Linked DNA regions of Homo sapiens. The protein of the gene in region 2 purifies or fractionates together with the protein of the main gene of each other region. This does not show direct contact. Each region holds a gene or a part of one and is shown on either strand. Other genes may lie near its edges.

Region 1 (3,811 bases), on a different chromosome or scaffold from region 2:
CTTATGGGATCACCATCATACATGCAGTCCATCATTGACCAAAATGACATGACTGCAGTTGGATGCAATATTGGCATCCAATTATTTGGCCAGCTTTGGTGATTGTTATGGACTGAATGTTTGTCTTCCCACAAAATTCATATGTTGAAGCCCTAACGACACCCAGAGAGGCCTCTAAGGAAGTATAGTAGTTAAGATTAAATGATGGCATAAGGGTGGGCCCTAATCCAACAGGATTGATGTCTTTCTAAGAAGAGAGGACCAGAGCCTCTTGCTGTCTGTGGACAGGCACTGAGGAAAGGCCATGGAGAGAAGGCACCCACATGCAAGCCAGGAAGAACGTCCTCACCAGAAACTGAGTTGGCCAAAACCTTGATCTTGGATGTCAAAGCCTTGAATTGCGAGAAAATAAATTTCTGTTGTTTAGGTCACCAGTCTATGCTATTTTCTAATGACAGCCTGTGCAGACGACAATGATTAATAGGATGAGGTGAATGCAAAGGAAAGCTTTCTAGTCTGGGAGACTAAAGGGACAAGTGGTGCCACTTACTGGGGACAGAGGCCCATGAAGAGGAAGAGGAGAGATTTGCTGGGATCAAGGAACAACATTAATTATTCCGTACTTAGGGTTCACCTCACTCAAACATAGAAATATAGAAGTTAGGTATTTAAAACCATTTATTCAATAAATGGTTATACATCCCCTAGCCATGGCGGTCACTATACTTGTCCTGAGAATACAAAATAAGTAAGATTCATTCTCTGTCCTCAAGGAACTTACAGTCCAGTGGTGAGAAATATTGTTCCCTTTTGTAAACCTCACACTCTAGTGTGAAAGACCATTTTCCTCTTCCCCACTTCTAAAGACTTGCAACTCATAAGAAGTAAAAAGATAAAATCCCATATCATCACCTGTAACTGCAGAGTTGTTTAAGATTGGACAAGAGAAGGTATATAGAAATGTTTTATCAAGTGCAATATGCATGTTAGCAATTACTGTAATTATAAAGCTACATTACTAACCTGCAGAAACTGGAGGTGAATCAGCCATGGGCAGCAATCAGAGGTGAAAAGGCTACCTTTGAACCCTGTGGGTGGCAGGAATTCCAGGATGGAGGAAGGAATAAGACAGGTGTAGCAGGGAAAGAACAGGCTTTCGGGTCCTACAGATGTAGTTCACATCACAGTTCAGTCAGTTATTAGTTATGGAAAGTTGTACAAGTCATGTTATTGATCCGAGCTTTAGTTTCTTCATCTGTAAAATGTAGTTAATGACATCTACCCAGGAGGGTTGTTCTGAGTATGTAAAGGGCCTGGCATGGTGCCTGGAAGAACTGTTGGTGCTCAATTAATGGTAACTGTGGCTCCTATTAATATCGTCATTTTCCTCTTCTACCTTCGAAGGGATTTGTTGGTGGTTACGTTACTTGAGAAGCAAGGAAGTAAGGAAAATGGAAGAGCTATTAAAGACCAGCTTTAAAAATTATTTTTTTCTTATTTATTTATTTATTTTGAGACAGAGTCTTTCTCTGTCACCCAGGCTGGAGTACAGTGGTGCGATCTCAGCTCACTGCAACCTCCGCCTCCTGTCTCAGCAATTCTCCTGTCTCAGCCTCCCAATTAGCTGGGATTACAGGTGTGTGCCACCACACCTGGCTAATTTTTGTATTTTTAGTAGAGATGGGGTTTCACCATGTTGGCCAAGCTGGTCACGAACTCCTGACCTCAGGTGATCCACCCACCTCGCCCTCCCAAAATGCTGGGATTACAGGCGTGAGCCACTGCGCCCAGCCAAAAACGTTATTTTTAAAGGTAAAGGAAAGCAGTTCAACCCAGCTTTCACCTCCTAACCTATGGTGCAAATGTATAACTCCTAAAGAAAATGACCACTATGTTATATGGCTTGCAGCCTGAGAACATCCACCTTGTTCATTATGTCTTATATTCTATCTTAAGTAGATCTACCAAACACTGTTAATAAGGGGTCTCTGAAGGCAATGCTTCTCAAACTTTAATGTTACATAGGAGCCACCTGGCAGCTTGCTAAAATGCAGATTTTCATTCAGTGGATTTAGGGTGAGGCATAAAATTCTGCATTTCTAATAAGTTCCCAGGTGAGACTCATGCTGCTGTTTCACGGACCTTACTTTGAGGAAGTAGCAAGGCTATGAAAGGAAGTGGAAATATCTTCCTTGGTATAGTATTCTCTGTAATGGCTTGCTTCTCTTTAGTGCTCTACCTAAATACAAAGTAGCTATTAATAGAACACTAAAGGAGCTTTTTTCGACCAGGTTTAGAAATTCTGCACAGGGATTCATTTCAGATCAATATCAACTTTTTGGAACAGCTTACTATTTACAAGGCAGTGTGTAAGGTGCTGGGGATATAAGAGTTGATATGACAATTCCTGCTTCGAAAGACTGCTCATTATGCCCTGTATATTGCTAACCTCCTGAGGACAGTCTTCCTGTCTCCCTTGTTGCCTAAAACTGTATAGATGTTTAAAAAATACTAAATGAGGCCAAGTGCAGTGGCTCATGCCTGTAATCTCAGCACTTTGGGAGGCCAAGGCAGGTGGATCACCTGAGGTCGGGAGTTCGAGACCAGCTTGGCCAACATGGTGAAACCCTGTCTCTACTAAAAATACAAAAATTAGCCAGGCGTGTTGGTGCACTCCTGTAATCACAGCTACTTGGGAGGCTGAGGCAGAAGAATCACTTGAACCCAGGAGACAGAGTTTGTAGTGAGCCAAGATGGCGCCACTGCATTCCAGCCTGGGCGACAGAGTGAAACTCTGTCTCAAACAAACAAACAAACAAACCTAAACAAATGAATGAATGAGTTCACAGGAGTTTCATTTAAAACATCTTCTGCCAGCACATGACAATGAGACACTATCTTAACTGCTCTGTATCTTAACTATCAGTTTTAAGAGGTGACTGAGTTAAAATGAGGCCATTAGGGTGGGCTCTAATCCAATCTGACTGGTGTCCTTGTTAGAAGAGAAAATTTGGACACACAAGGAGACACCAGGGATGCATGCATACAGAGGAAATACCATGTCAGGACACAGTTAGAAGGTGGTGACTGCAAGCCAAGGAGAGACGCCTCAGAAGGAACCAAACCTGCCAGACACCTTGATCTTGGACTGCTAGCCCCCAGATCTTTGAGGAAATAAATTTCTGTGGTTTATGCCACCCAATGCCCAGATCTAAGACCCTACTTCTGTAAGATATACAAAATGTAAGCATAATTCTAAGAGTGGATAGATGAACCTCAAGTTGCAGTGGGAACTATGAATGCAAGGATTAAGGCGAGATGGACTGAACAGGGTGAGACAGCAACCGAAAATGGACTAAAATAGCTGCCATATATACATTTCTCTCCCTTCTCATCATACCAACACAAAGTCTAGGGCTGTTCTCTCAAATCTGAGACTGAAAGTAGCTTTTAGACCTTTTTCCCCCCTTCCAGGCTACATTTTAATATTTAATATGATTTCAAAAATTGTGGCAGGAAAAAGACCCCAGATTTGTTTGTATTCAAAGTTCTAAAGATTATTTATGATGTTAAAGTAGTGAGATTGAATTTTCCCTTCCCTCCCTCCCTCCCTCCTTCCCTTCCTCTCTCTCTCTTTCTTTCTTTTTTGAGACAGGGTCTTGCTCTGTTACCCAGGCTAGAGTTCAGTGGCACAGTCATAGCTCACTGCAGCCTCGGGCTCAAATTATCATGACATTAAATTTTTGACAAAAAATTTATACAAAATGCAGTTAAATGAGAGTACTGCTAGCCATTAGGAAGCTATATCTGA
Region 2 (3,911 bases):
GCCTGGGGGGCAGACACTGAGGCCAAGGACCTGGCCAGAGCCCACAGGACCACGAGCCCTGCCCAGACCAGACCTGGCGCTCCAAGGCAGGGAAAGGTGGGCGTGACGGGGTCTCAGCTAGAACCTCTGGGACTGCAGGCCAGCCCCACCCAAGGCCAGCCTGACCTTCCCTCCTGCAGGGCCCAGGTGTTTGGGCAGAATGTTGCCAGAGCGGGCACCATTCCCCAGCCACAGGCATTATCAAGTACTAGAGCTCTTCACCCCACGGACGTCCAGCACACAGCACAAGTGCACGCTGCGGCCGAGGGGAAGGCCTCCTAGGAGAGGTGAGACTGGCTCATCCCTGAGGGAGGCCAAAGTGGAGCGGGTCACCGGGGCTCACTCCGGGAGGCAGGAGGCCGTGTCACTCAAGGTCAACTTCCATGAGTCGACTGAGCTCCAGGCCACACCCTCGGACACAGCAGCCAGACCCAGGCTCCGCCCGGACAAGGTCTGACTCAGCCCACGGGACAGGACAGGGAGCTTGGGCAACAGCCGCCCTGTCTTCCTTTTTCTGCAGGACGGGGCCAGGCACAGAACGAGCTCCCCAGGCCCAGCTGGTGCCTGCCTGGCCGAGCCCGGGAGAGAAAGCCCACCCTGCGGAGCCGAGCCCGCCGCTCCAGCCTCAGCCCTGTCCTGGTTCCTCGGGGGCCTGAGTGGGGCCCACAGCTGACTCACTGAGAAGAGATGCGTCTGAAGCGTGCGGGGCAACGTGGGAGGACGATCTGTCTGACTCCCTTCCTCATCTCCCAGCCTCGACCCTGCCTGCGCTCGCCCCCTTGGGTCCTTTGAGTCTCATCCAGAGCACTGGGCTGCCTTCCGGGGTGGGTGTTGACCCAAGCTCTGCTCCGCCTGGCCCTCATGCTGCTGGTTGGAACCCGGGATCCCTGGTCACTGGCTGCAGATGAGTAACCTCCAGCCTCAAGGGCACTTGGCTGGAGTGAACATGGTGCTTACGGCTCACTGTGGTGACCCAGGCAGAGACCATGACGACTCTTGGTGTCAGGGTGAGATTTCTGTGTGCTCCATGATGACTCGTGGATATTAATAAAACAGTGAAGAACTGCAGCAGGAGGCCCTTGACTGTCCAAGGAACGCCCCACACCTACGACACCCACTGACTCTTGGACCATGAAACCAGCCCTGCACCCTCAGACACTCCACCCAAAGCCAGTTATGGCTTCCCCAGTGCCTGGACATGGTGGGCCAGGACGCCAAGCCACAGCAGTGAGTTACGGCTCGTGCCAGCATTGTGGGCAGCAGGCAGCCCCTGGGCCCATCCAGCAGATCCCGGGCCTGTCTCGGCCAGAGGCTGGCCCTCCATACCCAGCCAGCAAAGGAGGAGGGGAGAGGCCCCGGGGTCCACCTGGAAGAGCCCTGACCCAGGCCTGAGAGTGACTCCTGCCCCTGCCCCCGAGCTTCCTGACCATCCCCGTGACCTGGCGCCTCCCTGAGCTGTGGGTCCTGCTGCCAACTCTAGCTGTTCATTGCACGTTGGCCAGATACTGCCTGACCAGTTCCTGAGGCTCCGGGGGATGGCTGATGAGGGCACACAGGGCGGGAAAGGCTGCAGCGTGCAACACCTGAAGGGGGTGGGGGCAGGACGGAACCCAGCCCAGCCCAGGAGCCGCCCCTCACTCAGAGTCAGGTGGAGGGGAGGGCGGCTCCAAGCGCGCCTCTGCTGTGTGCCTGCTGTCCTGGGGCTGGGAGGCGTGGAAGGAGAGAGGGCCAACGCAGGGCCACCTGTATGTGACTGGCTGGGGAAGAGGGACCCAGGCTGGAGCCACTGAAGGCTGGGAAGGGCTGGGACTCCGTGACTGGCAGATCCCCCGGGGCACCCAGCCCTGCTCTGTGCCCTGGGCCCAGCCACCTCCAGGACAGACAGTGCCCCCAGTGCCCGCAATCCCTAGCCACCTCCAGAAGGCACCCCCCGCCCCCAGCCAGCACCTGGCACCTCGGGCTGTGGCCACAGGAAAACAAAACCCGGCTGGTCCGAGGGACTGAGGGTCCCGGAGCCACCTGTCCCCGCCCCTGCCCCTACCGTGGCGTTGGAGCAGTTGAGCAGGCTGATCGCGAGCAGGAACACCCAGCGGCGCGCGTAGGTGCGGTGGCCCCGCTGCGCGCACAGGGCCCGGGGCTCGGCCAACCCCGTCTCGGCCTCCGTCGGCCCCGCCATCGTCGGCGGCCTCCACGGGTCTCCGCCGGTCCCGCCGGCCGCCCGGGCTTAAGGACCTTCCCGCGTGGGCCGGGACCGCCTGCGGGCGGAGGTGGGGCCGGGCCGGGCCGGGCCACGGGGGGCCAGTTCCGCCCCAAGGACTACGGAGGAGGGTCCCGCCCCGTCCCAGTTAAAGGAGACCCAAAAAAGCGGGGGAAGGGCGGGCAAAGGTGAAGTTGGACCCTCCTCCTTCGGCCTCAGGCTGGAAGTCCCTGCCACAAAAACCGAATGTCCCTTCCGGGAAGGGCCCCGGTCACAGCCTGTGTGCTTCTCAGCAGGAAAGGCGGCCTGGAAGTCACTCTGCCCAGCAGAAGCTCTGCACTTCCTGAAGGGGGCTGTGGACCCCAAGTTCCTGAGGTTCAAGCCAGCCACAGGGAGGGGCCAGAGGCCAGCCTGGAAGAAGAGGCTGGGCTGGCTTTGCGCAGAGCCTCAAATCAGACCAGTCCCTCTACAGCCCCTGCGGGAAGCAGGCATGGGGTAGGAGGGCGAGGGGCTGCAGGCCAAGGCTGGAGGGAAGGCCAGAAAGGCCTGTGGGCCCCACCCTGGGGTAGGCAGTCCGCCACACACGCACCGGATTGTTACCTGCATTTTACAATGGAGGACACGGCTCTCAGAGGAGTAGGCACAGGTTTCTGTTTGTTTAGGATGGAGAGGCCTGTGTGTTGGAAGGCAGAGGAGGGAGTTTCGGCTTAGTCTTTTCTGCAAGAACCTGCTGATCCCACAACTGTGCCTGGCCCACCCTGGGGGAACCCAAGAGGCTCCAGGCCCTGTTGCTGAGGCCAGTATAGGGGTGGGGTGGAGGCTGGCCTGGTCAGACGTGCAAACAGGATTTCCCCCAAACAGGGAGGCTCTCTTGACCCTTGAAACCATCCCCGTTTCCTGAACAGTATTATTCGTGGTTTTTGTCTTAAACATTCATCTCCTTTGCCAGGGCCTGTCCATTTTCCACACCTGAGTCTGAACAGGCTAATGATGAGGCCCCAGCTTTCACTGTGCAGTCTTCTGCAGGGATTGTGTGTGTGTCTCAGATAGAGCTCTCCACTTTGGGATTTTTTTTTTTTTGTAGAGTCTCATCCAGTAACAAAGAGAAAATGGAGCTCACCCGGGGTGTCCTGAGATGGGTGGGCCCCAAGGGGGTTCCATTCTCTGAGACGTGTGATGGAGCCCTGTGGTCCTCACTCTCTTTATCTCCTCTGCCTTCCCCACCGTCTAGCCTCCCCCCTCATCTTTGTTCCCCATTCCCCCACCAGTTCCTTCTGTTCTCCTTCTCCTCACCTCTTGCTCGCCCTGCCCTGAGGACCCAGCCCCCTCACAACCTTCCTCCATAGTCCAGTGCCAATGTTGGCCTAGGGCCTTCAACATCCCCTAACCCCACCTGGCAGAGGGGGAGTTGCAGTGCAGGCTTCCCTGTTGAGGGACCTCACTATTGTGGAGCACTGCCTCTGACAGGTGGTGTCTGAGCCTGTCACCATGAAATGGGGCAGCCACAGTAGCTACCTCCATCGTTCAGTCTCTGTTGAGCGTGCATTGTCGAGGGGTGTCACCATGAAACGGGGCAGCCACTGTAGCTACCTCCATTGTTCAGTCTCTGTTGAGCGTGCATTGTTGAGGGGCTCCTCCTCCCTACATGTCGGAACTCTTGGGTTGAGCAGGTGAG

The links.
Region 1: the proteins of SLC49A3 (region 2) and CNNM1 purify together in Homo sapiens (affinity purification with mass spectrometry; one large-scale study listed by BioGRID and IntAct). This does not show direct contact.

Annotation. Positions count from the first base shown.
Region 1 is NC_000010.11:99,332,353-99,336,163, reverse strand, and holds part of CNNM1 (metal transporter CNNM1), read right to left. Parts: intron 1-3,811. UniProt on the Homo sapiens protein: Probable metal transporter.
Region 2 is NC_000004.12:686,913-690,823, forward strand, and holds the start of SLC49A3 (solute carrier family 49 member A3), read right to left. Parts: upstream 2,240-3,911; 5' UTR 2,216-2,239; coding exon 2,081-2,215; coding exon of another isoform or gene 1,994-2,080; exon of another isoform or gene 1,987-1,993; intron 1,954-1,986; exon of another isoform or gene 1,173-1,953; coding exon of another isoform or gene 997-1,172; exon of another isoform or gene 903-996; coding exon of another isoform or gene 718-902; exon of another isoform or gene 560-717; intron 434-559; exon of another isoform or gene 1-433.